4 linked regions of the Homo sapiens genome follow. The protein of the gene in region 1 interacts with the protein of each later gene in a pairwise test. Each region holds a gene or a part of one and is shown in the gene's direction. Other genes may lie near its edges. The genes, in order: MRFAP1L1, SYCE1, MEOX2 and RADIL.

The links.
Region 2: the proteins of MRFAP1L1 (region 1) and SYCE1 interact in binary tests that used the Homo sapiens proteins (3 or more experiments, as listed by UniProt).
Region 3: the proteins of MRFAP1L1 (region 1) and MEOX2 interact in binary tests that used the Homo sapiens proteins (3 or more experiments, as listed by UniProt).
Region 4: the proteins of MRFAP1L1 (region 1) and RADIL interact in binary tests that used the Homo sapiens proteins (3 or more experiments, as listed by UniProt).

What each region holds. Positions count from the first base shown.
Region 1 is NC_000004.12:6,705,848-6,714,484, reverse strand, and holds MRFAP1L1 (MORF4 family-associated protein 1-like 1), read left to right. Parts: upstream 1-4,619; 5' UTR 4,620-4,855; coding exon 4,856-5,239; 3' UTR 5,240-5,254; intron 5,255-5,841; 3' UTR 5,842-6,784; downstream 6,785-8,637.
Region 2 is NC_000010.11:133,561,570-133,570,766, reverse strand, and holds the start of SYCE1 (synaptonemal complex central element protein 1), read left to right. Parts: upstream 1-5,183; 5' UTR 5,184-5,237; coding exon 5,238-5,310; intron 5,311-9,197. UniProt on the Homo sapiens protein: Major component of the transverse central element of synaptonemal complexes (SCS), formed between homologous chromosomes during meiotic prophase. Requires SYCP1 in order to be incorporated into the central element.
Region 3 is NC_000007.14:15,610,196-15,614,520, reverse strand, and holds the end of MEOX2 (homeobox protein MOX-2), read left to right. Parts: intron 1-1,909; coding exon 1,910-2,134; 3' UTR 2,135-3,309; downstream 3,310-4,325. UniProt on the Homo sapiens protein: Mesodermal transcription factor that plays a key role in somitogenesis and somitogenesis and limb muscle differentiation. Required during limb development for normal appendicular muscle formation and for the normal regulation of myogenic genes.
Region 4 is NC_000007.14:4,880,180-4,889,433, reverse strand, and holds the start of RADIL (ras-associating and dilute domain-containing protein), read left to right. Parts: upstream 1-5,717; 5' UTR 5,718-5,838; intron 5,839-9,254. UniProt on the Homo sapiens protein: Downstream effector of Rap required for cell adhesion and migration of neural crest precursors during development.

The sequences.
Region 1 (8,637 bases):
TCCTTCCAACCTGCGAAAGGAAGATAAATCTTGGGGTCCTACAATTACTAAGCTAAAAGAAAAGTCAAGTTGGAAACTGCTTAGGGCAAACCTGCCTCACATTCTATTCACAGTCACTTCTCCGCTCACTGAGATAAATGCGTATCTGATTGCCACCTTTGGAGAGGCTAATCAGAGACTCAAAATGTCTGGGCGCGGTGGCTTACGCCTGTAATCCCAGCACTTTGGGAGGCTGAGGTGGGTGGATCATTTGAGATCACGAGTACAAGACCAGCCTGGCCAACATGGTGAAACCCTCTTTTAAAAATACAAAAATTAGCCGGTTGTGGTCGTACACACCTGTAATCCCAGCTACTTGGGAGACTGAGGCAGAAGAATTGCTTGGACCTGGGAGGCGCAGGTTGCAGTGAGCCGAGATCACGCCACTGCTCTCCAGCCTGGGCGACAGGGTGAGACTCCATCTCAAAATAAATAAATAAATAAATAAATAAAATTTTAAAAGAAAGAAAGAAAAAAAGAAACTCAATAGAATGCAACCATTTTTCTCTCATCTACCCAAGACCTGGAAGCCCCCTCCCCGCTTCAAGTTGTCCTGCCTTTGCTTTGAGTTGTCTCACCTTTCCGGACCAATCCATCGTTCATCTTAGATATGTTGATCGATGTCTCATGTCTCCCTAAAATGTATAAAACCAAGCTGTGCTCTGACCACCTTGGACACATGTCATCAGGACCTCCTGAGGCTGTGTCACGGGCACACATCCTCAACCTCGGCAAAATAAACTTTCTAAATGAACTGAGACCTGTCTCAGATATTGGGGGTTCACAAACCACTTGCTCTGGGGAAACCAGCTGCCTTGTTGTGAGCAGCTCCATGGAGAAGCCCATATAGCAAAGAACTGAGACCAACAGCTAGGGAAAAACAGCCTCTTTCCAACAACTACATGAGTAAGTCATCCTGGAAGGGGATGCTCCATCCTCATTCAAACTCAGAAATGACTGCAGCCCCAGCTGATAGGTTGACTGCAACCTCATGTAAGATACTAAACTGAAATGACATAAGATAATGCTATGGTCTGAATATTTGTGTCCTCACATCCAAATTCATATATTTAAATTCTACCCCAGAAGGTGATTGATAGGGTTTGGATGTCCTGCCCAAATCTCATGTTGAAATGTAATCTCCAGTGTTGGAGCTGGAGCCTGGTGGGAGGTGACTGGGTCATGGGGACAGATTTCTCATGAATGGTTTAGCGCCATCCCGTTTGTGCTGTTCCTGTGATGAGTGAGTTCTCGTGAGATCTAGTCATTTAAAGTGTGTGGCACCTCCTGTCACCTCTTGCTCCTGCTTTGGTCATGTGACATGCCTGCTCTCCTTTTGCTTTCCGCCATGATTGTAAGTTTCCTGAGGCCTCCCCACAAACCAAGCAGATGCCAGCACCCTGCTTCCTGTAGAGCCTGCAGAACCCTTAGCCAATTAAGCCTTTTTTCTTCACAAATTACCCGGTCTCAGATATTCCTTTATAGCAATGTGAGAACAGCCTAACACAGTGATGATATCAGGAGATGGGGCCTTTGGGAAGTGATCTGGTCATGGGGTCAGAGCCCTCATGAATGTGACTAGTACCCTTATAAAGGATATAAGGCCAGCTGCAGTGGCTCATGCCTGTAATCCCAACACTTTGGGAGGAAGAGGCAGGAGAATTGTTTGAGGCTAAGAGTTTGAGACCAGCCTGGGCAACATAGCAAGACCCCCGTCTCTAAAAAAAATTTTTTTTAAAGCTGGGTGTGGTGCCATGTGCCTGTAGCCCCAGCTACTCAGGAGGTGGAGGCTGGAGGATCACTTGAGCTCAGGAGTTTGAAACAGTGAGCTATGCTCATTCCACTGCACTTTAGCCTGTGCAAAAGAGCAAGACTTTGTCTACAAGTAAATACACAAAAGATGTATAAGAGGGCCGGGCACGGTGGCTCATGCCTGTAATCCCAGCACTTTGGGAGGCTGTGGCGGGTAGATCACCTGAGGTCAGGAGTTCAAGACCAGCTTGGCCAACATAGTGAAACCCCATCTCTACTAATAATACAAAAATTAGCCAGGCGTGATGACAGGCACCTGTAATCCCAGCTACTCAGGAGGCTGAGGCAGGAGAATCGCTTGAACCCGGGAGGCAGAGGTTTCAGTGAGCAGAGATTGTGTCACTGCACTCCAGCCTGGGCGACAAGAGTGAAACTCAATCTCCAAAAGAAAAAAAAAAAAGGATGCATAAGAGAGACCCCTTGCTCCTTCCATCCTGTGAGGACACAGCAAGAAGGAACGGTTTATGAACCAAAATACTAGCCCTCACCAGACAGAATCTACTAGCACTTTGATCTTGGACTTCCCATCCCCCAGAACTGTGAGAAATAAATTTCTTTTGTAAGCTGCCCACCTTATGGCATTTTGTTAGAGCAGCCTAAATGCACTATGACAGATAATAAATGTTTTAAAGCTGCCAAATTTTGGGTTAACTGGTTATGCAATAATAAACCACTGAAGGAATATGCTACTATTTATTCATTTTATTTATTTATTCTCCTGCTGATGAACATTTGGGTTAACTTTGGGGCTATTATAATAAAGTTGCTGTGAATATTCTCGTATATGTATTTTTATAAACAATTGCACTCAAACTCTCTTGAGTGTATAACAAGGTGTCAGTTTGCTAGAACATAGGATTGGTATATGTTTAATCTTGGTTGATACTGCCAAATAGTTTTCCAAAATTATTGTAACAACTTACATTCCCATTATTATGTGCTGAATATATGTGTCCCCCAATATTTTTTTATGTTGAAGCCCTAACCCCCAGTGTGGCTGTACTTGGAGTAAAGCAGTAAGTAAGGTTAAATAAGGTCATAAAAGTGGGGGCATGATCCTATAGCTTCATGTTCTTATAAGAAGAGACACAAGAGAGCACTCTTTCCTGTACCCCCCAACACTGCATGCACAAAGAAGAGATCATGTGAGGACTGCAGCAGGAAGGTGGTCATCTGCAATTGAGGAAGAGAGCCCTCACCTCCAGAAACCAAATTTGCTGACACCTTAATCGTGGACTTCTGGCCTCCAGAACTGTGAGAAGATAAATGTCTGTTTTTAAGCCAACCAGTCTATAGTATTTTGTTATGGTGTCCAGAGTAGACTAAGACATCCATCAAGAATGTATAAGAGTTCCAGTTGTTCCACATCTTCCCCAACACTTGGTATTGTATTTGAAATTTTAGTCATTCTAGTGGATGTACAGTGCTTCCTCATTGTGGTTTTCATCTGCATTTCCCTGTTGAATCATGACGTTGAACACCTTTTCATATACTTATTAGCCATTTGAATATTCTCTTTTGTTAAGTACCAGCCTACGTCTTTTGCCCATTTAAAAATTTTGTCTTTTCCTTCTTGATCTGTAGGAGTTCTCAATATATTCTGCATATGAGTCCTTTGTCAGTATAACTATTGAAAATATCTTTTTTCACGGTGTCTTGCTCTTTCCCTCTTCATGTTTTTTTGATGAACATCTGCTAGAATGTTGGTGTTTGCAAAACTGTTTCACGCATGTCATCTTACAAATCCCTCTTCCCACTGACAGATATTCAGGCTGGGGCCATTGGTCTTTATCAGACTGGAAAACTGAAGCTCTGATCTGTGGCACTTGTGTTAAGAAGGATGCCCCCTCTACACACACTCATATTACTACTAGTGTGGCACTGGGTGGCTAAGCCTAGCAACAGACTTCCTCCATTCCACAATGGCATTAGGTTAGTGATCAAAATGTACTGACCATCAAAGCCACATTTACTAGGTCCCTGCTGATTTTCAGGTCCTGTGTGTGGAGGGACATAAAGGTGATCAAGACCAGAACCTGTCCCCAAACAGCCTCCAGTCTGGTAGAAGCACTTATGTACTAGAGAAGAATTCCTCTCTCTAAAGCATCCCCTAAGACCCTGCTTGACGCCAGGCTGACAGGAGGGGCGGAGGACAGAACTGAAACAGAAGTAGCCCTTTACCTTGAGGACCTTACAGACTGGCGAAGAGAGACCAAAAACCACCGGCCAGAATCACCCAAGGCAGCGAGAGAATTTCCCCCCAGGACAAAAGTATGAGCCAGGGGTGGGGAGGACAGAAGGACGTGTTCCATTCTAAAACAGTGAGCAGGGACTGTGGACCCACATTGCTCTGGGCTCAAATCACGACTTTTAGCACGGTTTTTACCTCTAGGTTCGTTGTGAGGGCTAAATGAATTCATATAAGTTAATTCAAGCTTGTGCATGCTTAGATAGTAAGCGCTGTGAACGCCAGCCAGTCTTATTCAAATATAGGGAAGGGAGGGTCACTTTTACTTTTAAAAAATAATAAAAGTAAAAGCCCGCTGAAGGGAAGCTTTAGATGAAGACGCGAACAAACCTGCCGCCACCGATCTAAATTAGAGGGCGAGGAGGGGCGCCGGGAAGCAGCTGGTGATGGACGTGCGCGCGCCCGAGGCCCCTTTACGTGCACGCGCCCGCTACCTGGTCTTGCCGAAGGCGTGACCGTAAAGGGGCCCGGCTCTGTCGTGAAAGGGCCGCAAAAAGGCCGAGGGCGAGTTGACGGCTGCGACTCCATTTTGTAGGCCGCTTATTTGTGTGCATCCACGGCGATTCTTCCCGCAGAGTTGTGAAGCGAAAGGCTTACAATTAAAAGGAAGAAAAAAAAATAAAGATAATTCGGGAGTACAATTGACAAAGCGTGTGGGTCGCTCAGCCTCCAGCAGTAACTGCTGATCTCCAGTTCTTGGAGGGTTCCGGTGAGAAGAACGCCCCTACTGCGGTACTGAGGAAGCGGCAGGAGGAGATGCGGCCCCTGGACATAGACGAGGTGGAAGCGCCTGAGGAAGTGGAGGTGCTGGAGCCCGAGGAGGATTTCGAGCAGTTCCTGCTCCCGGTCATCAACGAGATGCGCGAGGACATCGCGTCTCTTATACGCGAGCACGGGCGGGCGTACCTGCGGACCAGGAGCAAGCTGTGGGAGATGGACAATATGCTTATCCAGATCAAAACGCAGGTGGAGGCCTCGGAGGAGAGCGCCCTCAATCACGTGCAGCACCCGAGTGGCGAAGCCGACGAGAGAGTGTCGGAGTTGTGCGAGAAGGCTGAGGAGAAAGCCAAGGAGATTGCGAAGATGGCAGAGATGCTGGTCGAGCTCGTCTGGCGAATAGAGAGAAGCGAGTCTTCTTGAAGGAGGAGATCGGTGGTAAGGTCGGAAACTAGCTGGAGCTTGGATGAAACTCAGTAGTCGCCCTAAGCATGGTTAAACCGCGCCCTGTAAAAAGTTATGTTCTAGGCCTGCATCCCCCATTTTATTGCATCAAAAATTGAGCATTGGGAACAAAGTTGGGGTCAAGAGGAAAGAATGCGTGCTGGTTTTGTTAGGCGTTAGTATACCGTTTTTTTGTGGCCTCTCCCTCCCACGCTGTTAATTAGAGAAAGATAACAGTAACTTCGGTTTTGTTTTTGTGAAACATAAAAGTCAATTCTAATAGGGCAGTCGCCAGAAGTAGACCTGTCTAGGCACTAAGGGAGTTTGGGGAAAGCCAAAGAAGACCTAGGCCATAGAGCACAGTGGAACGCAGGCTGAGAACGCAGGGAAGGAGAAATAAAGAGTAAAGCCAGAGGCCATTACCTGAAATTTCCAGATTGTTCTATGAGACAGGTATGTCAGAGGACCGTGTCTCAAAGAAGTGGCATTCTTCTGGGTGGTTCACATTTATTTTTAACATCAGGATATGGAACTTTGAGAGTCAATGTCTTCATGGTAAATTTCTCCCAATTGTGCTTTAGGTTCACAGCTGAGGACTGTAGTCAACTGGTAAGGATGAACTGACACCTTGAGGAAACTGAAACAGCTTGTCATTTTCTCTGTTTTGTTTTTGTATGTTTTTTACCCCGATGTAACAGTCTCCCTTATGGTCAGTGATTGATGACCTCGATATGGATTTAGATTATCAAATGTGTTTGGTTTTGGAAATATAACTTTTGTCAAAGAAATACTCTCAGAAGAGAAATGGGGCTTAATTAAGTTGTTTTTGTGGTCACGTTTATTCTTGTTACTTCGCTGTGTTTTTGAAATGTTGGGCATGGCCTCGTATTTTGCTGTTACCTTTGTGACCTGATTGTTTTTTGGAACACGTCAAGACGTGGGATCAGAATCTTCCAACTTTAGAGGTGCAATGGAAGACACTACGCTACTTGGTTGAGCCTGGTGAAGAATGTATTAATGAGACTGCTTTGCATAAAACTGGGAAGAAAGAGAAGACAGTTGGAGATGGAAGATGGTTTTGTATATATTTTGGAACTTTAGTTCCTCTGTGAGACGAAAGAGGAGAGCTATGTTTTGTGGCACATTGTCTGATATATATTGTGTAACCTGTCAGGTGAGTTGATTTAGACAACATAGCTGACCTTTTATGACAAGGCAGTTTGAATAGGGACTATTGTAATACCCTCACACATTATAGGGGCATCAGAGAATGGCATGGAAGAGACAGTCTACAGAGAGCTTTAAGAGGCCGGAGAAAGGAAAAGACATTATCAGGGCCTGGAAAGTCTCTTCCAGTTCATCAGGGTAGTAGACCTGTCAGATTGGAGGTCAAAGTCAAAAGTATAATAAGTGTTAATTTGCCTTGAAAAACAAAGACCTAAAAAGCCTTTTTTAAGAAATAAATTTTTTGTTCACATGACCAAAGCCCCTCCTGTGTGTGTTAATAAAAGAATCATAAACAAATTTTTTTGGAATGGATGTTCTTCATTGAGTGTCATCAAATGGGGTTGAACTGCTTGTAGTTAAAGGCTCTTGGTAAGCCTTTAACTGAGGGAGAATTATTTCTGGAAGGTGCTATGGAGATGAGCTGACAGAACACTCAGTTCTGAAGAGAAAAACTTTCGGCCATCCTCTGGGCCAAGCCCCTGCTTTTCAGCAGCGGAAGTGTGTTTAGTTAACCAGTGGGAATGTAACTTGCTTCATATCCTATCCAAGGCACTAGGAACGTAAAGGTGAAGACATGGATGGGGCGAATATGTGGGACAGAAATGGAAACAAGGAATTGTGACATAGAGTGCGTGGATATCTTGTGGGATCCCTGAGGAGGGAGTCAACTCTTCGTAGGGAAGTGTGAATTCAGAGCAGGTGACTTACCTGGACCTGAAAAGTAGAAATGAATGAAGGCATATAAGGGACAGGGATCAAAGTGAGCAAAAGCCTTTCCAGTTCCAGCACTGGGGAGATGGCCATTGAGCTGGATGTTAAGGAGTGTGGAGGGGGTTGTGGGAGACAGAGTGAAATTGGCAGGCAGGGCCAAGAGGTCTTCCTTAAGGTGTTAATTCATCGATTCATAAGCCTGTACTTCAGTGAGATTTCTTCACCCTGGAATGTTTCTTCACAGAGTGCTAATGGATGCTCAGAGCCATAGTGTAGGCATGGTACAATTTCCAGAATTACTAAATCTAATTTCATAAAAATAGATACATGATCATAACAAGCTCAGATACACGTTTTGGATTAATGTGTAAAATAGGCATTTTAAAAATCAAGTACCTGAGCACAGAAAAATTACAGAAGCTGTTTCTGGCTTTGTCATGATATCTAAGATCCTTGCTCATGTGCCTGCCTGTCTGGGTTCTTCAGTAAAAACGAGAAGTATGGCTGGGGAGCCATAATTTCTGATAATCAGGAGAATGACCGTCACATTTGTAGTTTAGGAAGATTACCCAAGACTGGGTATGGATTAATGTGAGTTTGAGTGTGGGCTAGAAGATAGGGGCAGGTGCAGAAGTAGAGATGGGAAGTGAGGGCCTGAACTGGGGCAGAATGAGTGGGAAGGACCAGCTAGGCTTTTCTGGAGCCAAGACTTGGGGTCTTTCTATATCAGTCAACTAGACTAAACTGCTGTAACAGTTCACCCCAAAACCTTAGTGGCTTGCAACACCTGAGGATTTTTTTTTCTTATTCATATTGATGTATTAATACATTGTAGGTGAGTTGTTCCATATTCTCTTAATTCTAGGAGCTGGCTGAAGGAGCAGCTGCTCTTTGGGATATTGTGGATCTTGATTGCGAAAGCTGTTATTTACAAGTTACCTGACGGATTTAAAAACATGCTTTGGGGGTGAAAAATCTGAGTCCTGTACATACACACTCGTAGACACACACACATACTATATATGTGCTACATACATACACGTGTGCATATATACTATGTATATGTATGTTTTTCCCCTCGATTAACTGACCATAGATTATATTCATACATAGGATTGCATTTCATCTCTTCAGTATCCTAGGGTTTTTTTTTTTTTTTTTCCTAAGCCTCCTTCAAATTTACAGCCTAAAGAGTGTTCTGAATCATTTTTGAGCCTTGGCTCTTAGGCAGAGCATTGTAGTGACAGGCTAATTGTCTTAACCCATGCTGTGATGAAAAAATAATTTAGATACATTGAGAGTTTTGTCTCTATTTCCTATTTAACTTACACATTTTCTTTTCATTGAATGATGTGTCAGTGGAATTTTAACAACTTCAAAGTCATCTAGAAAATTTGGATTGGCTTCTGTTAGTAGCTCTGAAAGTCATTGGTCTGTCT
Region 2 (9,197 bases), on another chromosome or scaffold:
AGGGGCCCCTCCCAGCCTCTCAGCTGGCAGTCCTGGGCCTGTGCTGGGAAACATGCCCTCCCCGCCCGCAGCCGGAGGAGCCGCATGGCTGTCTTGAGTGGAGGTCACACATCCCCTCCCAGGGCCAGGGGAGGGAACGGTCACAGATGTTCCTCATGAGCCAAAAATAAGCAAGGTCTGGCTGCGGTGCTGTCCACTGCCGGCTCCAGCACCAGGGGTTGCCCAAGAACCCCCTTGACTCCTTGGGGTAAGCAGCTCACTGCTGGCTGTCCTGTGTGTGATGGGGAAGGGGGACTCAACCCGAGTGTGCAGACCTATGATGACCCCCGCTCCCACCTCCACGTCCCATGGCCACGGCCCCTCCCTTCCAAGCTCCTTCTGCCTGATGGGCAGCACCCCCTCCCGTCTGGAGTCTGCCGGGGCCCTTCCTGCTCTCCTTGTTAATTTATTTTCTGTCTTGGAGGGAAGCTGGGTGCACCTGCTCAGGTGGCCCCCTAGGGCCAGAAGACCTGTCAGTCACTTTCAAATACATGTTCTTTCCAGCTCTTCCTTGCCAAAGGTTCTAAAAACACTGTTGTCCGTCTCACCCAAAAAGCTAAGCTTCTGTCCAATCCTTAACGGTAGCTATAAATGAGAAGCATAAGCTTGGTTTCCTTCTAACATCCGGCAAGTTAGAAGATAAAACGTATTTCTTCACTTATTCATCACATATTTGCAGGGCACCCCTACACGGGACAGCAGAGGTCCCAGGCCGGTGCTGCACCCGGAGCCAGGCTCGGAGCTGGCCGCGCGCCCTCAGCTGAAACTCACCGGAGGCGCGGCCGCCCTGGGCTGAGAAGACGCCGTCGGCCCAGGTGGCATCAGAACCCACAGGAGGAAGACAGCCAGCCCAGAAGGAGCCATGGGGGGCCTCTGGGGATCGCAAGGGTCGACCCCATCCTCCCTGAAACAAGGCCGGAGGTTGAGGAGGTCTCCGCCCGGCCCCGCAGCTGACAACCGGTGGAGAAACCGCACCTGCCACGGGAGGGGCCGCGGGGTGGGCTCGAGCCACCATGGGGCTGGTACAAGCACCCTCTCCGCTCAGGACCTCGGCCCTCATCCCAGGGCACCAGGGCTCACAGGGGGATGGGCCCGGGTGGGGACGAGGGTGTGGAGGGGCAGGAAGCACGGCGGGTGGAGCGGAGCCGGGTGCGGGGGTCGCGGGGGACCGCGGGGACGGGGCCTTGTGATGCAGGAGACGGAGGGGGCTGGTGACGGAGGACGGGAGGCCGCAAGGATGGGGGACGCGACATCCTTTTCCCCTCCCACCGGCTCACCAGGGATGCGCCTCCGCGACTGCCCGCCCCAATCCCAGGGCGGAGGCCTCGCGCAAAACCCAGGCGCCGCGGCTCCGCGCTCCGGCTGAGGGTCCGCGCCGCCGCCCGCCCGCTCCTTCCCGCTCGGCCGCGGCCTCAGGGACGGATACTCCAGCGCGCGGTTCCAACCGAGGCCCGTGGCGGGTAAGGCCGGGAGGCTGGGGCGGGTACGGGGCCGGGAGCGAGGGGCGGCGCGGGGAGGGGATGCAGCTGTCGCCCGCACAGCCGTGTCTGGACGCGGCCCCGCAACTCGACCCCGTCCCGCCCCCAGCCAGCTGCTGAACTAGGCGGCCGGGGACGGCATTGAGCGCTGGGCGCGCGCGGGAGGGACTGTCCCTGGGGCACGGGTCTGCTGGGGCGGAGTCCGCACGGTGTCAGCAGCCGCTTGTCCTCCGCAGCATCCGCAAGGCCCGCACCCAGGCTTTGGCCCCAAAGGTGGGGACCAGGCCCAGGCACGGCCCGTCCCCGTTCCAGACCCTGATCTGAGCCAGCTCTTGGTCCCGGCTACCGCGTCCTCCAAACACAACGCCCCTCCCCCCATGCCGCCTCCCCCCGCCCCCCACATCCCAGCAACGCGTGCAGAGCTCCCTCCCCCAGGCTTGCTCCCCCGCCCGGGCCTGGACGCCCCCAGAGGCCTGAACGCTCCTGCCCCGCTTCTACACCCCCAATCCAGGTGCACAACCTTCAGGTGCAGAACCCTCCTGCCCCTCCTGCCCCACCTGCCACTTCCCAGCGCCTCCCCCAGGCCTAAGTCCCTGATGCTAGAGGTTAAACCGCGCCCCCCCAGGCCTCAGTGGGCCTCCAAGATGCTGGGGGCACCCTGATCCCACAAAAGATGGGGGTCCCTCTGCTCTCCAGCCTTGAGCCCTCCGCCTCTGGGCACCCGATCTCCATGGAAACTAAGGGCCCTTTCCCTCTCTTCCCGCAGGTTTAGCCCCATGAAGATGAACTGGGCACCCGCGAATGGCTGGGCTCTGCTACAGGAGGCAGCCTTCCTCTGCGTGCGGCCGCGGAGGGCTCCGCGGGGGCTCGAGAGGGGCCTCGAGGGTGTGTGTGAGGCCGGCGCTGTGCTATGGTGCCCCGGGCTCCTCCCTGCGCGTGGCTGCGGCCGGGGCGGCGGGCTCAGGCTGGAGAAGGGCCGCGGGACCCGGGGAACGCGGCCTGGAGGACGAGGAGGACTGGGTTCCCGGAGGCAACAGGACCGGCTCGGCATCTACAGCTACTGTACGTGGACTTCGGGCGCTGGACCCACGGGCGGCCTGTGCCTCTGTGTCGGGCTGGGTGGCGCCCTCAGTGCCCTGGGGCTGCTGCGGCCCTAGGCCTGGCTGGGCTCGGTGACCACATCTGGCCCCCGGGCCGCACCGTCCCCCAGGATCCTCCGGCCTGGGCTCCCCCTTCCTCCCTTGCCCACAGTCTTGGAGCCCCAGTGGGTGCAGGAGCTGCTGGCTGCCCCTGTGGACCCGCCATCCACCGTCCTGCCCATGCTGCCTCGCCATCCACCTGCCTGCCCACGCCGCCTCAGCCTCCCACCTCCCACCTAGAGGAGACCATGGGCCCTGCCCCACCTGCTCCAGGATGTTAGGGTCCCCTCAGCCAAAAAGGCAGTGGCCTGTGGCTCCTGTACCAACAGCCCAGCCACACTCCAGAGCCGCCCAAAGGGAGGTGCCAAGGCCAGGAACCCAAGCCACCCCAGCTCCCCATGCCTGCCCAGGGGCCGTGGTAACCCATGGACAGGGAGGTGACCTCAGGCTGGTTCTGCCACTGAGGCCCTGAGGAATCAGGCCCTCCCCAAAAGAAGTAATGAAATGGACCAAAGGACTTAAGAATTTGGGGGGAAGTAAGGGGAAAACGTTAGGTGCTAACCACCTGCCCAGAAGAGTGGATCTCACAGCCCAGGAACATTCCCAAGCAGGAAAACCATCCGTCCAGGAACCCTAACCCTAAAACTAAGCACAACCCCTACCCCTAACCCCTGACCCTAACGCTGACCCTTAACCATAACCCTTAACCCTAACCACTAACGCAAAACACTAACCCTTAACCCTAACCCCTAACACCTAACCCCCACCTCAAGCACTAAACCCTAAGCCTAAACCTTAACCCTAACTGCTAACACTAACCCATAACCCTAAGCCCTAGCCCCAACCCTAAACTTGACCCTGAACCCAAGCCTCCAACCCAACCCCGACACAAACCCCTAACCCTAACCCCTAATTCTAGCCCTAATCCCTAAATCCAACACCAACCCTTGACCGGACCCCTGACCCCTAACCCTAACCTCAACTCATAACCTCAACCCCTACTCCTACACCTAACCCCTACCCTAATGCTAGCCATAAACCTAACACCCAAACCCAAACTCGAACCTATGCCTACCCCTAAAACCCTAGCCCGAACCGTAACCACAAATCCTAACACACAACGCTACCCCTAAACCTACCACTACCCCACCCCAAACCCTGACACCGAACCCTGAAGCTAACCCTAACAACACTAAGCCTAACCTGCAACCCTTAACCCAACTGTAACTCCTAATGCTAACCCTAACCCTAACCCTAACAACACTAAGCCTAACCCCTAACCCTTAACCCAACTGTAACTCCTAATGCTAACCCTAACCCTTAACTCTAACCCCTTACCCTAAACTGTAACCCCTAACCCTAATCCCAACCCCAACACGTAACCCTAACCCCTATCCCCTACCCTAAAACCCTAACCCTTACAAACCTTAGCCAAATCCCAAACCCTAACCCCCACCCCTGACCCTAATCCCCTAGCCCCCAAACCCTAACCCCAATACCCTAACCCCAACACTAAAACCCTGACCCTAACCGTAAAACCCTACCCCTACCCCGACCCTAGCCCAACCCTAACCCTACCCCAATCCTTCCCCTACCCCTAACACTAACCCCAAACCCTAATTCTAACCCCACTCCTAACCCCAAAACTAACTTCTAACCCCTAAACCCTAACCCCAACCCCAACTCTAACCTTAATCCCTAGCTCTAATCTGTAGCCCTAACCCTAAACCCTAAGGTAACCTTTTATAGGTTAGGATTCGAGGCTTCGTATTTAGGACAGGCAGGTGTTCTGATGTCTCCCACTCACCTGCACGGTAAAGTTCTTCCCCTGGCTCTTCACAACCAGTCGCGATGCATCGCGGCCTCCCCTGGCCGGTGAAGGGCTGGGTTCTCCCGAAAGCCTCTGCTCCTCCTCCCTCCTCCCAGGGCCCTCCGGGCCTCCACGGTGGCCCCAGCGCGGCAGGGACCGTGCAGAAGGGACCGTGGGCTTGTGGCCGGCCTCGGCCACTGTGGGCATGGAGCTCACGGGAACGCGGCCTAGGGGCAGGCTACGCTCCTCTGCGCGCGCAGGAACAGCGGGCCCAGCGGGGGCTGCCGCAGATTTCACTCGCTGGGGCCCGTGCACTCCCGCGGCGGTGTGGTCCCGCAGAGCCGCAACCTCATGAGGCTGCCAGGGCCACAGCGCCTTGTGGAGTCGTCATCCGTCAGACACGCACACTTCACAGGAAGCTTCGGCGCTACACATGCGTACTGCTCGTTGGTGGGGAGGGCCTCCAGAACCAGGGCCGGTCCCCTCGGAAGCCAGCGCACATGCGCGGGGGCACCCGGCAGCGGGCCAATCGCAAGCCTGGACGGCCGCACGTGGCCCTGGCGGGCTTCCCGCCGCGTTTGTAGCCCTCGCGCCTTTACGCATGCGCACTAGTGCCACGCAGGCCTGCCGGAGAATTACCTCACATCTCCAGGCGCGCGCAGGAGTGCATTGCGCAGGCGCGCTGCCTGGAGTCCTGCCCCCAGCGGCGGTTGCTCCAATCACCACTGGAGGCTCCCTCCCGAGGCACCCTCGCTGGCGAGCTGAGAGGAAATGGCGGGGAGGTCCCTGACATCGAAGGCCGAGCCCACCGCAGGAGCCGTGGACAGGGCTGAGAAGGCCGGAGGTAGTGGTGGGAGGCAGGGAACTGTGCGTGAGGGTCTGACCTCGCCGAGGCGGGGCAGGGTTGGGGCGCGGGTGGCGGCTGCTTCTTCCTGTCAGTCCTGATGCTGCTGATTGAGACTTAGCGGGTTTCTTCAGAAAAATTTCGGCCAAGATGAGGGAGTGCTTGCCCGCACACCCCCCACTTTGTCTTAAAGCATTGAACTGTTATCATAGTTGCTCCAATTTTGGTTTAGGTAATTAGTCAAAAGACATCCCTTCCCGTTGTCCCACAGACTTTACATACACACCTCTTAAAACAAAAAGGATATTTTCCTGACGCTCCCAATCCCAAGGGAATTCCTAATTCCACCTTCCTCTCCCTAGAACCAGCAAGTGTCCAGATTTCCCAGTCGCACTAAACTGGTTCTTGACAGTGGGGCCCCCCACCCAGCATCCCGACGCCCCGGGGAGCCGGGGGAGGCCGACTCCACGCAGATCCCCCGTTTGTTTCTCCCTGACCCCGACCTGCCATAGTGGCTCCTACCTCACCCTGGGAAGGGAGGGGACAGGCAGCTGGTCAGAGTTGTACAGAAGTCCAGAAATTGCAGCCCAACAAAGAGAAAGGACACTGTCCTGGCCGTTTCCACTTCAGGACACTGTGTGCCTCTGGGTGTTCTGTGAGGATTTTCAAACTTACAGAAAAGTGGAGAGAATTGTACGGTGACGTCCCTCCTGCTGTCACTCAGCTTGTCATTCTGTCCTGAGATCATCTGTCCCCCTTGAGTTAAAACTCTGCAATTAACAAACGTCGGTGGCTGCCTCCAGCCCTACCTGCGTGAATGCCATGGCAGGTGCTCTGTCATGTTCTTACAAAATGAAGGTTTGAATACTGAAACAAGCTTAGCACAGAAAGCATCCCTACAGTGAGATGTGGCACAGTGAAAGCCCCAGCGAAGGACAAAGCAAGTAAACAGGACAGACGCAAACGTATCCCTTTCATTAAGCACCTGCTGGCCCGCCGGTGTGCTAGCCTTTCAGTATCATGGCTCCATGTTCCTCACATAACCTAGTATATTTAGGTAAGTTTTAACCAATGTCGCTTGTGCCTTAGTTCAAACTGCTACAACAGAAATGCCTTATTTCTCACAGTTTTCGAGGCTAGAAGTTCAAGATCAAGGTGCAATTCAGCGTCTGGTGGGGGCCTGCTTCCTGGCTATAGACTTCTGTCTTCTCATTGTGTCCTCATGTTGGGGAAGTTGCTGCAGACCTCTCTGGTCTTATAAGGGCACTAATCCCATTGCTGAGGGCCCTACTCTCATGACCTAATCACCTCCCAAAGGCCCCACCTCCTAATGCAGTCACACTAGGGGGTTAGGATTTCAACATACGAACTATGGATGGGGGCACAAACATTCTATAGTGACCAGCTACAGAAGAAATTTAAAGGACAAGATTCCAGTTTTAGTCTATCTGTTTTAAAAAGGAAGCAGGGATGTTATCTAGGGTCAGTGACACTAGATACATTTTAGTAAAAAGTCTATTAGTCTTCACCTAACTGGCTGCAGTTATTACTAGAAAGGGGAATGACTGGGGAAAGGGAATGTTGGTGTTTCAATTTTTTCTTCATACTTTTTCACACATGCCAATTACTTGAATAATTTAAAACTTAATGCAAAAATTTATGAGCAGTAATTTGTGTAAGATTTCAGGTGGGACCAAAATGAGGGGACTCCATAAACTCAAAAATAAGCATTTCACAAAATTTTATGCTTGATTTTTTTTTTTTTTTGAGACGAGATTGTGCTTTGTTGCCCAGGCTGGAGTGCAGTGGTACAATCACTGCTCACTGCAGCCTTGACCTCCTGGCCTCAAGAGATTCTCCCACCTCAGCCTCTTGAGTAGCTGGAATCACAGGTACATGTCACCATGCCCAGATAATTTTTTTAAATTTTTTATTTGTAGAGAGAGGGTCTTGCTGCATTGCTCAGGCTGCTCTTGAACTCCTATGCTTGAGCAGTCCTCCTGCCTCAGTCTCCCAAAAGTGCTGGGATTATGGATGTGAACCACTGAGCCTGGCCTTATGCATGTATGCATGATTTTTAATGGCTGTAAATGATTTCATCCTGTGTATGTGCTATAATTTATTTAACAAATCCCCTAAGGCATATTTAGGCTTCTTCGAGTTTTTCACTATTATAAACAATACAGTGATGAACACCTTGCCCATTAGCCATATCCAGAATTACTTAGGACATAGTCTTAGAAAATAAGATGCACCCAAACTTTTGATATTTACTATCAGAAAGTTTGTAAGGAGACACCTTAATTTTGCATATCTGGTTGACAAAGATAAACACGTTTGGAAACATAGGTGATTGGTAAAAATGAAAAACTGGGCATCTTGTATACATCAGTGTAAGGTAATTTGGTATTGTCAATCAAAACTGTTACAAACTTTGGTCAGGTGCCTCTGAGCCTTCTCAACCGTGCCTCGGCCTTGGCCTTGGCCTGTGATATGGTTTGGATCTGTGTCCTCACCCAAATATGTTGAATTGTAATCCCCAATGTTGGAGTTGGGGCCTGGTGGGAGGTGGTTGGATCACAGGAGACCAATTTTATTTAGATAGTGACTACCTATCTTTTAACTGGATCTCTGAGCTCTGGGAAGAGGCCACACTGAATCCTGGGTCTGCAAAAAGGGAGAATTATTATGAGGCTCGACCACATGGATGCTTTTACAGTGTACTTAAAAAACATTAAAAAAATATTTCTAAGTGTCTAAAATATACTCTTCCTTAAAAATGCAGGAGTAGCTTCTGTTGCAATAATTAATAAACAAAAAAATCAGGTAACACAATACAAAAGCAAACAGTTTAGGAGCTGACATGAACTTGTGTGTTTACACTCTTGGGGATACACAAGGAAAAACAATTTTCTCCACAAAAGGGAGTCTGGTGCCTTCTCCATTTTCTTTAAGGAACCTCAGGCTATTATAAACTATTTTAGGTCCCTCATGCAGCAGAGCGTTCAAGGGAAAGGAGAGACAGCAGAACTATATGAAGAAAATAGCATTCAGTCAACTGAAAAGAAAAAAAACTTTTGCCCAAAAAACACAAGGTCCTAGGAGAGAGAAAAAAGAAAAATCATGAAGCCCTTTTAAATACACACACACACACACACACACACACACACACACACACACACACACACACACACATTGGATGTTAGCTTTTAATTAAGATGACTTTTAACCATTTGAGTTTCTTTTTAAAAAATTTTTAAGATCTCATCAACATATTTCAGCTAGGACAAATATCTGCTATTTCAGAAGTACCAAGTATCAAACCAGAAAGGTCTTGATTTAGGAACCAAACCCAGGCTGTCATGGAAAAAAGAAGACAGAACCTTAGCTATGGAACTGCAGTTGGGGTGACAATCCTTTCTCTTTCAGTTTGGCCTGGCTAGCAAAAAGGTGGCCTTGTTATGTAAATAAATCCCCTTAAGTAGTCAAAATCAAAAATCTTCCCCCCCTTTTTTCCTTTTGCTGGCTGTTTTTTCTTCCCCCACCACCCCTTTTCTGGTGGGAATTTAGCCACTTCAGAGGCCTTGTTCCACATAATTTGGAACTTTCCTTTGGATTTGATCAAGTCAGAATTGGCCAAACCCAATAGGAAAAGGACCAAAACAACAAAAACAGAAAGAAACAACAACAAAAAAAAATACCAGTTAAGCAAAACAAACAAATGATCACACAACTTGTATGGTTACTGGACACTCTAATGATAAGGAAAAATTAAGACCAGCTGGTTGTTAATTTTACCTTTAGCCAAGACAAACCCCAATTCAGTTACTTACCTAGGGATGGGTCTTAGGCTGAAGACTGCTCTCTATCATCTTAGAAGCAGGAAA
Region 3 (4,325 bases), on another chromosome or scaffold:
CATTTAAAATAAAGTAAAGTTAAGCCTATTCTTCAGACTATATACTAAAATCAGTACTTCATTGATTAAGTACCTCAGTTTGAAAGGCAAACTTTTTTTTTCTTTTTGAGACAGGATCTTGCTCTGTTGCCCAGGCTGGAGTGCAGTGGTGCAACAACCACTGACTGCAACCTCAACCACTTGGGCTCAAGCAATCCTCCAACCCTAGCCTCCTGAGAAGCTGGGACTACAGGCACTATGCCATCCCACCCACCTAATTTTATTTTATTTTATTTTATTTTATTTTATTTTATTTTATTTTATTTTATTTTATTTTATCTATTTATTTGTAGAGACAGGGTCCCACTGTGTTGGAAAAGGCAACCTTTAAAACTCTTAGAAGAAGACACAATAGAATATCTTACTGGCTTCAGAAAATAGATTTTTTTAGAAAAAGAAAACACAAAACACTAGTCATAAAAGAAACAATAGATAAATTTAAACATATTAATTAATATTAAGAGTTTCTAATCATCAAAAGACACTCTAAGAAAAGGAAAAAGAAACAGCATACATTGAGAGAAGATAGATAGCAGCAGCCATATAACTGCAGTCTCCAGGGAAGTTCCCATGATATGCTTATCAGGACACAAATGCAAGAATGTCTATAGCAGCATTACATATAGAAAAAAAAGAATTCAAATATCCATGGATGGTAGAACAGAAAAATGGTGCTATATTGACAGAATTTGGAATATTATACAATGATAAAAAATAAATAAATAGAGTCTTTTGAATCAACAAAGATGTGGCAAAAAGCCTACACTTAGGAACATTCCATTGATAAACCTAACAAACAAATAAAATTAAAGAGTATAGTTTTAATATTACTTGTTATGAAAAAAATTTGTTTTCTTTTTTAAGAAAGACTTGGAGGTGACACACAAAATTCAGGCTTGTGGTACTTTTAGGTGGGGTAGACAGAGAAATACAATGTAAAAAGAACACTTTGCTTGCTAGAAGCTATAATTATGAGAAATGCAATGTGAAAGAAACAGATTTCCTCCTAAACAAGATGCAATAATGCCAATTATATTCTAGTTCTGATAATGTATAGACCTTTAATGTCTGTTTGCTGTTTTTTTTGTTTTTAATACATATATGTTATTTAAATATATATATTTATTTAAATGTATTAGGCAAATTCAATGAAGCTTTTAAAAAGAAAATACCTGTACAAAGCTGATGTGAATGATGTAGTATATAATCTTGGTGTTAGCATTTAACAAATGTTGAGAATTTTTTATTGTGACCATATTTTAAAGAAATCACTAGATCAAATATTTGCAAAGTAAAATAAATGAATTAAGGTAGAAAATAAAAAGAAGAGTTCAAAAGAAGATAGGCTCAGTGTGAGGTGGAATGGTCAAATAAAGATTTGTGAAAGCAGCAGTAGTTTCTGATGGCAGAGTATGGCCTTTCAGATGCCGCTTAATCAGTAGCTGCAGGAGCATGTTTTAAATTGGTTCAGGAAATGACAGCTGGATGTCAAATCAAAGAAGAACTTAGGAGTGGGGGGCTTTGACCAACACAAATATTATGTTAGCTCCAATTCACAGAAGCTCTTTATAGACGCAAGTGCTTTGAGTGCCTTAAATGACAAAGTTTTTGTTTAGTTCCATATTTTACATTGTATGCTGTAAAATACAAATATAGTACTTTGTATGCACCTTTTGAAACTTTAAAAATTATTATCATGAACATGTAACCTGATTAAATTCAACGTGGATTTATTTTTCTATTCACTCCTTCATGGTGTCTTTGTATAAGCCTTTGAGGAACTTCTTTTCATTGATGACACTAAGGAGAAAAAAATGTCACTTTAATTATCTCTTTTTTTCTGTTTGTTTGTTCCCTTTCTTGGTTGAAGGTGAAAGTCTGGTTCCAAAACAGGCGGATGAAGTGGAAGAGGGTAAAGGGTGGACAGCAAGGAGCTGCGGCTCGGGAAAAGGAACTGGTGAATGTGAAAAAGGGAACACTTCTCCCATCAGAGCTGTCGGGAATTGGTGCAGCCACCCTCCAGCAAACAGGGGACTCTATAGCAAATGAAGACAGTCACGACAGTGACCACAGCTCAGAGCATGCGCACTTATGATATAAACAGAGGACCAGCTCCATTCTCAGGAAAGAAATGTTGTGATGGCAAGCCTTACCCAAATATCGTTTACACAGAGAGATGACTATGGCAGTGATGTTTAATATTATTAAATCCAGGCATTTCGAATCTGTTTTTCATGATTTATAGAGGGTTTACACAAAGTGCCACTTATTAAAGAGCTTCCACAGTGAAGATGGAGAAGGTGAACTTGCTTTGAATATTCCAGATGTGTTTGGTCGTGCGTATGGCAGTGAGCAGGTATGTGTTTGCTTTTGCTTGCACTGAAAATTAAATTGCTATCAAGAGCAAACTATGAACGGTTTTTTATTCAAGATGTCTCCAGAGTGAAGATGCCGAGGATGAACTTGCATTGAACATTCCAGATGTGTGAGATCATGTGTATTACAGTGGGCAGGTATTTGCTTTTGCTTGCACTGAAAATTAAATTGCTATCAAGAATAAACCATGAAACATTTTATCCTGAACAGCCACAGTGCCTGAATTCACTCAAGTGGATAAAAAGTGTATTTTAACTCTGTATATATTACCCTTAAGTCATTTTCCTGTCTTCACTAATTTAGCAATGCATTCATATTAGCTGATGAAAATAGGCACTCACAATGACAACCAGAGCCAGTTTCTTGTCTTTTTTATACATTTTGTCATCCCAGAGACAATCAGTATGTGCTTACCTGTGTTCAAGTAGAGAAAAATACAGTAGAGTCTGATAGGACATATTCTTGTACCACAGACAAAACAAATCTTATGTTGCATTTACTATCAACTGCTGCTAATACGTTATTATAAAACTTACCTAGCTCCTGAATTCTTCCTATCTTATAGCTTAAAACAATTAGGATCATAGGCAAATCAGTTACCTTGCAGAAAGAGCTTTGTATGACAGACATTGTCTTATTTTATTTCTGTAAAATATTAGCTGTATGAATATGATTTAATTAACAAGAAAACATTTCTTCCTGATTGACAACAGTGTTAGACAAGGTGCAAAGCGAAACTGGTTGCTCAAGTTGATAGAAAACAAAATTCTGAATATCTTCAAATTAAATTCGGTAAAAACACATTATTTTTTCATATGTGATGTATTCATGCAGAACAACTATCTTTGTATTTTGTTTTTAAAATGTGTTTAATAAATGATCCTTTGTAAATAACTTTGGTCTCCCTACATTAATTTTCTTAATTTTTATAGATTTCAATATCAATGATTAACAAAGTCTCAAATCTATCTGCACTTGTGCAAATCCAGATGATTATAATTAGTGGATTATTTACATTTTTTCATTTCTGAATTTTTTTATTATGGCAGGAAAAAAATAAATCCTTGTGTAATCAAAGGGCGCCTAAGAATGGGCATATATTAAGCTATTTCTCTAATTTGAAGAATACAGTGAATGGATTTTTTTGTGTGTTTTATGAAGCCACAGATAAAAGTAGGAAAAAAGTATTAAATAATAGTATTCACCACAGTGAGGAAAATAAAATAGTCATACATTTTTAAAGTTATGTCTGATATATGTAAGTTAATCCAACAGTGGTTTTATAGTCTGAATATGCAGAGTCTCTGATGTGAAATATAAGCTAAAGAAGCTAATCAGAGTCCTCAGTTCTAATGGGACTAATGCAAGAAGTAAAGGATGCTATTAACATAATGTATTTTGCATCATGCATGATTGCACACGCATGGGGTGCCTTAGTCCTACTTATAGCTTTATCACATTGTTTTTCATTTGTTTCATATTCTAAGCAGAAATGCTTGGAAACATTGCCAGCCTTCCTCCCCTGCCTCAATCCGAAACAAATACAGAAAAACAATCAGTAAAAATTTCCAAAAACCCATCAGTTAATTGATTACACTTGCTTTAGAATGATCAGACTGACAAAAATTAATTTGATATATTTTAACTTAATCTAGCGTGATATATAGAGAGTATCCCAGAAATAAATAATTTTTTTGTATCACATTTTCCTTTCATGTAATACATTTTACCTCAGTAGTTGTCAGTATTTTAAAATTAACTGAGAATAGACCATTCGAATTGAGGTCTCCCAGGCATGAAACAGACACTTTTCCATTAATCACCTGAATTAATACAAAGTCTGCTTGTGCTGATGACATCTACTTGGGTGGACTGACTTTCTTACTGTAGAAGAGGATTTAAATTCAAAA
Region 4 (9,254 bases), on another chromosome or scaffold:
ATTCAAACCCAGCTTTCTAGAGCCACAGGCAACCCGCAGGGCTTACCTGCTCTCAATGTTTTGAAATAAACTTTGAAATTTTAGAATAGTTTCAGATTTAGAGGAAAGAAGATGAACCTCAAAAACTATGCCAAGGGAAAGAATCCAGACACAAAATGTCAAATATTGTATGACTCCACTTACATGAAATATCCACGAGAGCTGTGGCCACAGAGGCAGAAAGTGGATTGGTGGTTGCCGAGACCCAGGGGCAGGAGAGAATGGGGCGTGCCTGCCTAGCTGGTGTGGTCTCTCCTTTGAAGGTGATAACAATTTTTTTTTTTTTTGAGACTGAGTCTTGCTCTGTCACCCAGGCTGGGGTGCAGTGGCATGACCTTGGCTCACTGCAACCTCTGCCATCTGGGTTCAAGCGATTCTCGTGCCTCAGCCTCCCGAGTAGCTGGGACTACAGGTGCGTGCCATCACATCTGGCTAATTTTAAAATTTTTAGTACAGACAGGGTTTCACTGTGTTGGCCAGGCTGATCTCGAACTCCTGATCTCAAGTGGTCCTCCTGCCTTGGCCTCCCAAAGTGCTGGGATTACAGGCATGAGCCACAAGCACTGCTATTTATAGGTGTGGAGGGCCTGAAGAATGGAATCCAAGGATTAAATCACTTGTTCTGCCACACCCCTCTAGGGATACCAGATGTAACAGTCTGGGAAGGAAAGGTTGGGATCTAATGCTCCCTGTGCACCTCCTAAAGCCTGCCTCCTCTCTCCTCTGGGCCCCGAAAAAGCCCAGTCTCTGCCCCTGGACGGCCATCCCTTGGGCACCGGAACTTTGGACCTTAACCAGATCCCTTTCCCCTGGGCTCAGGTCCTTTCCTGGAGTCAGTTGCCGGATTCTGTCACTCTCTGGTGGCCAAGCAGGAGAGCTCAACACTCTATTTTTGGCCAGTGGATTTCCAAAGATACTTAACCCGACAGTTCAAAAACTGCCCAGGAGCCAGATGCTGGGATACGGAGATGAATACAGCTTTGGACTTTCCCTGGAGGGAGGGGGTGAGAGTGGATGGAAATCTATTCCTTCATCTACTCATTTAACAAATATTTATTGAGCACTGGCTAGTTGCCAAGTATAATAGTAAACAAGACACATGAAGCCCTTGCTTTCCAAAAACACAAATTCTAGTGTGTGTTAAATACATAAGCAAATACATTGACATGGTGATAAACTCTATGAATTAAATAAAACAGGTGGTCAGGTGTGGTGGCTCACACCTGTAATCCCAGTACTTCAGGAGCCGAGATGGGAGGATCGCTTGAGGCCAGGAGTTTGAGACCAGTCTGGGCAACATAGGGAGACCCCATCTCTACAAAAAATAAAAATAAAAAAATTAGCCAGGCATGTAGTCCCAGCTACTCAGGAGGCTGAGTTGGGAGGATCACTTGAGCCTGGAAAGTCAAGGCTTCAGTGAGCTATGATTGCACTATTGCACTACAGCCTGGGCAACAGAGCAAGACCCTATCTCTCTGTCTCATGCTCTCTCTCTCTCTCTATATATATATATATATAAATTATATATTTATAAATATATATAAATTAAATCTCTCTATATTATATATATGTATAATATATATATGTATAATAAAATCGAGAATGACTCGGGGGTGATGGTCAAGAGGTGGTCAGAAGACAGGAAGGGAGATGAGTTTCTGCGCTGGGAAGGGGCCCAGCATGAAAACACAGAGGGAAGGCTGTGGGGTCAAGGAGACCAAAGAGGAAAGGTCTCGGAGAAGGGAGATGACCTCAGAGTGCTTGAGGAAAGAAGTTCTGAGGGCTGGAGATCCAAGGCCAAGGAAGAGAGCAGTTGGAGCTGGGTTTTGCAAACCTACTTTATTCTAAGTGCAAAAGGAAAAGTTATGAGAGGGTTATAGGTGGAGGAGTAATAACATCTGGTTTAGGTTTAAGGAACATAGTGTGATTGATGTGGACTTGCTTAATAAAAAGGTAACAAAAATAAAAGACTGTGGGCGCACACAAGAGGACATGTAACCAGGTCTAGGAGACAGGAAGATCTTTCTGGATAAGGGGTATTAGTTATCCATTGCTACGTAACAAACTGCTGCCAAAACTTAGTAGCTGAGGTCAATAATAAACATTTATCAGCTGGATGTGGTGGCTCATGCCTGTAATCCCAGCACTTTGGGAGGCTGAGGTGGGTGGGTCACTTGAGGTCAGGAGTTCGAGACCAGCTTAGCTAACATGGGGAAACCCCATTTCTGCTAAAAATACAAAATTAGGTGGGGGTGGTGGCAGGTGCCTGTATTCCCAGCTACTCGGGAGGCTGAGGCAGGAGAATCACTTGAATCCGGGAGGTGGATGTTGCAGTGAGCTGAAATTGCACCACTGCACTCCAGCCTAGGCAACAGAGCAAGCCTCCATCTAAAAAAAAAAAAATTATCATCTCATAGTCTTTGAGGGTTGGGAATTTGGGAGTAGCTTTGCTGCAGGGAGGAGGGAGCTTTTTTGGCTCAGGGTCCTTCAATGGACTCCAGCTGGGATGTCTGTCACCTAAAGTCTCCTGGGGCTGGAGGACTCACATCCACCATGGCTCACTGACCTCAGAACTACTGATCTAAGAGAGAGCAAGGGCAGAAGCCACGTCTTTTATGATTGTGTTCCAGAAGTCACAGTGTCATTTTGGCAGTATCTTACTGATTACACAAGTCTGCCCTATTCAACATGGGCCTATACAGGAGCATGAAAACCAAGAGGTGGGAATCACTGGGGCCATCTTGGAGGTTGGCTACTACCAAAGAAACGCCTTATCTGAGTCTCAAAGGATGAGTAGAAATTAGCGGCCGGGTGTGGTGGCTCATGCCTATAATCCTAGCACTTTGGGAGGCTGAGGCAGGCAGATTGCAAGGTCAGGAGTTCGAGACCAGCCTGGTCAACATGGTGAAGCCCCATCTCTACTAAAATTACAAAAATTAGTCAGGCGTGGTGGCAGGTGCCTATAATCCCAGCTACTCAGGAGGCTGAAGCAGGAGAATCGCTTGAACCTGGGAGGCAGAGATTGCAGTGAGCCAAGATTGCCTCACCGCACTCCAGCCTGGGCGACAGAGCAAGGTTCCATCTAAAAAAAAAATATATATATATATATATACACACACACATTTGAAAAAAAAGAAGTTAGCCAGGTAATGAAGTTTGCTGTTATGGTCTGAATTTTGTCCCCCTAAAATTCACGTGTTTGTTGAAGCCCCGACCCCTCACACCTCAGAATGTGACTATATTTGGAGACAGGGCCTTTAAAGAGGTGATTAAGATAAAATGAGGCTGTTAGGATGGGCCCTAGTCTAATCTGACTAGTGTCCTTATAAAAAGAGGAGATTGAACACACAAAGAGACAGGTGAGAGGTGCACACCCAGAAGAAAGGCCATGTGGGGGCACAGCCAGAAGGTGGCCGTCTGCAAACCAAGGATAGAGGCCCTCAAAGAAGCCAAACCTGCTGACAACTTCACCTTGGACTTCCAGCCTCCAGAGCTGCCAGATAAAACATTTCCGTTTTTCGAGCCACCTGATCTGGCATTTTTTAATAGCAGCTCAGCTAATCTAATACAGTTGGAAAAGGTGTTTGAAGGTCAAGGGACCGGCCTGAGGGAAGATCTCGAGGCATGAAACAGCATATTCATACCAAAAAGTCAGCATTTCTAGATCAAGAAGCAATCTGAAAAGTTTCTCTATAAAGGGCCAGGTCATATTTTAGATATTTGGGGCTGTAAAATCCTGGTTGCAGGAAAGCAGTCGTAGATAATATCTAAACAAATGAGGGTAGCTGTGTTTGAATAAAACTTTATTTACAAAAACAGAAGGCAGCCCAGATCTGGCCCATGGGTTGTAGTTATCCGACCCCTGTGGAAGAAGGATGTGGGGACTGTGGGAGATGGGCCAGGAGCAGGGTGAGGAATATCTCAGGAGGAAAACCCAGGCCTGAACCCAGGCTCTCCTTCAGCTCTGACCATTGTCTCTTCATGCGCACCTGAATGAAATATTCAAGCACGTCATTCCTTTCAAGCATCCCTTCCTGGGGTAGGCGAGGAGGTTGGTGTGTATACAGAGGGTCCTGTATTCCTGGCTCAGTTCTTGTCTCTACCTCCAGCAGCCTGACCTCTCTGCGTCTCTATTTTCTCATCTGAAAAATGGGAGTATTACTGAACAAAAGGGTTCTGCGCTTGCTCTGCTAGAAGCCAATCTTGATCAGGTGCAGAGGTTCATGCCTGTAATTCCAGCACTTTGGGAGACTGAGGTGGGTGGATCACCTGATGTTAGGATTTCAAAACCAGCCTGGTCAACATGGCAAAACCCCGTCTCTACTAAAAATACAAAAATTAGGTGGGCGTGGTGGTAGGTGCCTGTTAACCTTAGCTACTCGGGAGGCTGAGGCAGGAGAATCGCTTGAACCTGGGAGGTGGTGGTTGCAGTGAGCTGAGATCACACCACTGCACTCCAGCTAGGGCAATAGAATAAGACTCTGTCTCCAAAAAAAAAAAAAAAAAAAAAAAAAAAAAAAGCCAATCTTACTGCATTAAGTTTTTGAGACAAAAGCTTTTTTTGTCCGTATTGTGAGTTGATCAATAAGGAGACAGGAGCCTGGCTCAAATCTGTCTCTCTGTGTTGACTTTGAGGCACTATTTTTTATTAGAAAAGGTTTAGGAGGTGGACTTTAGGATTAGCAGGTGATAGGTGGAGGAAAGGGGAGGCCTGGAATGTCTCAGACATCTCTGTCTCACAAGAATTGATGTGAGCATTAAGTGAGGTGACCTAGGTAAAGTTGCCTAGGGCCTGGCACACAGGTGGTCAATAAATGTCTGTTCCCACACTCATCAATGTCTGCTCCGACCTCCATCGCGAATATGGGGTCATGACTACGGAAATCATACCACGATAGCTGTCCACAAAAAGGTTCACTCCCGAGGCCCACATTCTGCATATTGATATTCCGAACCACCTGAATCTCCCAGGTCTAGCCCACATTCCTCAAAGGGAAAACCCCAGCCAAAGTGCCGAGGTCACGAGCTGCTTTTTAAACAAGTCCCCAGGGAGAGCAGTTGGGGCCAGAGCCCCAGAGCTGACCTGGTCATTTTTTTGCATAATTGTAAGCAGGAATGCCATGACCTGATTTGTCTTTTAAAACTCTGGGTGGGAGACAGATGGTAGGGGAGAGGAAATTCCTCCCTTGTTCCTTTTCGATGTCTTAGAAGATGTTTATTAATTGGGGGCACAGCTCTACCCTCCCCTACACCCACTCACTGGGCTACTAGAAGGTGCTGTCTCGAAATAGCCCACCCAACCGCAGGAGCCCAGAGCCCACAAGCAGCTCAGGGACTTAGAACTGGTCCCACCCTTCCTCCGGGGACCCCCCCTCCTTAAGCTGCAGTCTGTGGGTGGGCTGCAAGTCCCGCCTCTCCACAACCAGCCCCACCCCTTTCTTCAAAACCCCGCCTCTCCGGTGAGGCCCCGCCCCCTCGAGGCTGCATCCCCGTCCATTGGGCGGCCGGCAGGAGGCGCCAGAGCACAGCCCGCCTTTTCTAGCAGGTTGGCCCCGCCCCTCTCCTGGAGACCCCGCCTCCTCGAGGCTTTCTTTCTGCCTATTGGGCGCCGAGGCCCAGCTCCAGCCCACCTGTTCTCCCCCGCCCCACCCTTTGTGGCCCCGTCCCCTTGAGGCCCCGCCCCGCCCGTTGCGCCGCCGGCAGGAGGCGCCGCGGCACGCGCGGGTCTGGGCGCCGGCCCCAGCCAACGGCGGGTGGGAGCAGCGCGGGAACGTGGCGGCGCGGCGGGTTGTGCCGGAGGTGAGTGTGGGGTGCGCGAGGAGTGACTGCGGAACCGGGGGTGGCTCGTAAGGGGCGCTGCTCGGCCGCTGCCGGGGACCTGGGGCGCGGAGGCCGCGGGGCGCGCTCGGGGACACTCCCGGCCGCTGGTCGGGGCGCGGAGGGCAGGTTTGCCCAGTTGCCATGGGAACCGACTGGCTGTCGGGCCCCGGCCTGGACCGGGGGGCGGTACCCGGAGGCCGGCTAGCGCGGGCAAGGGCGGCCCAGCCTGCGGGGATCCGGGGGTCCGCGCTGCCGACCCCCGAGAGCTCCTGAGCCTGGCTGTCCGCGTGGGCCCCGGACCCCCAACTCCAGGGGACTCTCGGCCCTCAGTTTTCCCGGCTGTGCCCTGGAGGGGGAGCTTCGTCCGGGGCGCGCAGCGGGGGAGCGGGGCGCAGCGGGGGAGCGGGGCGCAGGGTTCCGCGCGCTCTCCCACCTGGGCCGGCGAGACGTCCCCTGCACATACCCCGTCCCGGTTGCAGCCCGATCCCCACTCGTGCGCCAGCTCAAAGCATTGTTTCCCGGCTATTTATGTACCATTTCCAGCCCCTCGACAAATACTGCATCCAAGATAACAGATGCTGAGCCGAGCTCCTGGGGCCTCGCAGGAGGAGCCTGTTGGTGGGGTTGGCAGGGCCCTGGCGGGGCTGCGGACCATCCTGCCCTGCCCTGTCGCCTGTCAAGTGTTTGGCTAATCTGAATTGCACAGAAGAATCTGATTGCTCGTGTCCCGCGGTTAATATAGGCCACCTCTTGTGCATTCCAGACAGGAACCAGTCTTGAAAGTCCCTTTTGCTGGGGGGCAAGTCGGTCTCCTCTCCAGCAGCTAGCAGGTCAGAATTAAATCTGATTGAATTATGTTTGCATTTGAAAGCGTGGCTCGGGCTGGGGCTGTAAAGATAGGATTCATGGAAGGAGGGGAGAGAGCTGAGTGTGTAAAGTCTGCGCTTCGTTTTCCCTCCTGCTGGAAATGATAATGGGTTCCACATTGTCCTGTTGGAGCAGAGAGGTCGCTCCACCCATGTCGTCAGCGCAGCACTGACCTCACTCCCTGTACTCGCCGCTGGGACTTGAGCTTGTTTTTCATCAGAAACTGGACCCTTCCTTGAGAACAAGAGAAAACATTCTCTAAGAGCAGCACCAGCCAGCGCCCCACACCCTCGCTGTCCGAGCCCTGCGCTTTCCCCAAGTATTTGTGTCACAGAGGAGCGAATGGGGCAGAAGAGGCCGGTCGCACTTCCAGAAAAACAGATCTTGTTACCCAGGGCGTGCTCCGCCCGGTCGGATTTTCCTGCACTCCCCTTGGCCTTTTAAAAAACGAGTCCATCCCATTCTCACAAACAGGCCAGGCTCCGCCTTCTGGGATTCGGAAGCGGGCAGCGTGTGAACAAGTGGGCACCCTCTGGTCTGGCCAAGGGAGGATGACCAAACGGAGAGAAATGCTTTCTGAAAATCCCAAAACAGATAAGGTTTGTGTAACAGGGACTTCTGGGGGCTTAAGAAGGAGTTATTGGAAAGGAGTCAATCATATTCTCTCTGCTTACATTTTCTCCTGTTTCATGATACTGCTAACTCTGCCTCTGCCTTCGAATCCGGCTCCGGAAACTGTGGGAAAAGCAGGGGTGGGGGGAAGTGGGGGGAACAACATTTCTGAAGTTCAAGCTTCTAAGACCCTGGGAGGAGACCTAGCAGTTGTGTGTTTGTAATTTTCTATTTGTTTTTTATTAAAGAAGAATTATGTAAATGTCAGACCTTACAAAACATATATCCACCCCTGGGCCCCAAATATCAACTCACTTTTCCATTGTATTTGGGGGCCTTTTTATAATTTTTGTCTTTTTTTTTTTTTTTGAGACGGAGTCTCACTCTGTTGCCCAGGCTGGAGTGCAGTGGCGTGATCTCGGCTTGCTGCAACCTCTGCCTCTGGGGTTCAAGCGATTCTCCTGCCTCAGCCTGCCAAGTAGCTGGGGTTACAGGCACCCGCCACCATGCCCAGCTAATTTTTGTATTTTTAGTGGAGACAGGGTTTCACCATGTTGGCCAGGCTGGTCTTGAACTCCTGACCTCAAGTGATCTGCCCGCCTCGGCCTCCCAAAGAGCTGGGATTACAGGCATGAACCACCATGCCCAGCCAATTTTTGTCTTTTTTTTTTTTTTTTTTTTGAGAGGGAGTCTCACTCTGTCGCCCAGGCTGGAGTGCAGTGGCATGATCTTGGCTCACTGCAAGCTCCGCCTCCCGGGTTCACGCCATTCTCCTGCCTCAGCCTCCCGAGTAGCTGGGACTACAGGTGCCCACCACCACGCCTGGCTAATTTTTTGTATTTTTAGTAGAAAAAGGGTTTCATAGTGTTAGCCAGGATGGTCTCGATCTGCTGACCTCGTGATCTGCCCGCCTCAGCCTCCCAAAGTGCTGGGATTACAAGCGTGAGCCACCGTGCCCAGCCATCTTTTTTTTTTTTTTTTTTTTTTTTTTTTTAACAGAGAGGGTCTCACTCCATTGCCCAGGCTGGAGTGACGTGGCGCAATCATAGCTCACTGTAGCCTGGAACTCCTGGGCTCCGGTGATCCTCCTGCCTCAGCCTCCCGAGTAGCTGGGACTACAGGTGCACACCATGCCCAGCTAATTTTTTATTTTTATTTTCTGTAGAGATTGGGATCTTGTTATGTTGCCCAGGCTAGTCTTGAACTCCTGGCCTTAAGCCATTCTCCTGCCTTGGCCTTTTAAATACTTGGCTCTGCTTCATGACTTTTCTGTGATATGGGCTTTCTCCTGCCTGGAGGGGGCTTCCCCAGTTTTTGGTATCGTATTTATATCAGCATTCAGACTTCATCTCCGGAGGCAGAGGTTTCCTGAGCCACAGCTGCCTGGTGGCAGAGGCTGTACCATCCACCACCTGCACTTTGCCTTTGCACCCTGGGGAACCCGTTGGAAATGAGCACTATGAAAAGGTGGTGGCCGACCCTCTGCCAGTGTGTGCTGCCTGGAGGCTTCTAAGCCTGGGGCATCTGGAGAGGTGCTTTGGAGCAGGGTTGTGCAGCTCTCATGGATGGTTAATAAGTGCCGGCTGGAGAGGCTCTTTGAGGGGTTTTGTTCTGTGATTCCAAGTACTCACTTTGAAAACTGACCACAGGAGACTGAGGTCAGACTAGAGGGCGATTGGAAGCCGCTGGTGTGGTGTGCACAGGCCAGGCCGCACGTTTGTGATGTGAGCACTGTCTGAAAATGCTTTTGTTGTAAATGAAACCGAGGCCTTTGATGAGTCCGTGGGGGAAGCTGCGGCCGGCTCTGAGCTTCTTAGGATTTGACAAGGCCACTCGTTGCACCTTCCTCAGAGGAAGAGAAACAAAGGCTTTGCTCCTTTACTCCTTTATGGCCTGGCTCGATGGAACCTCAAGGC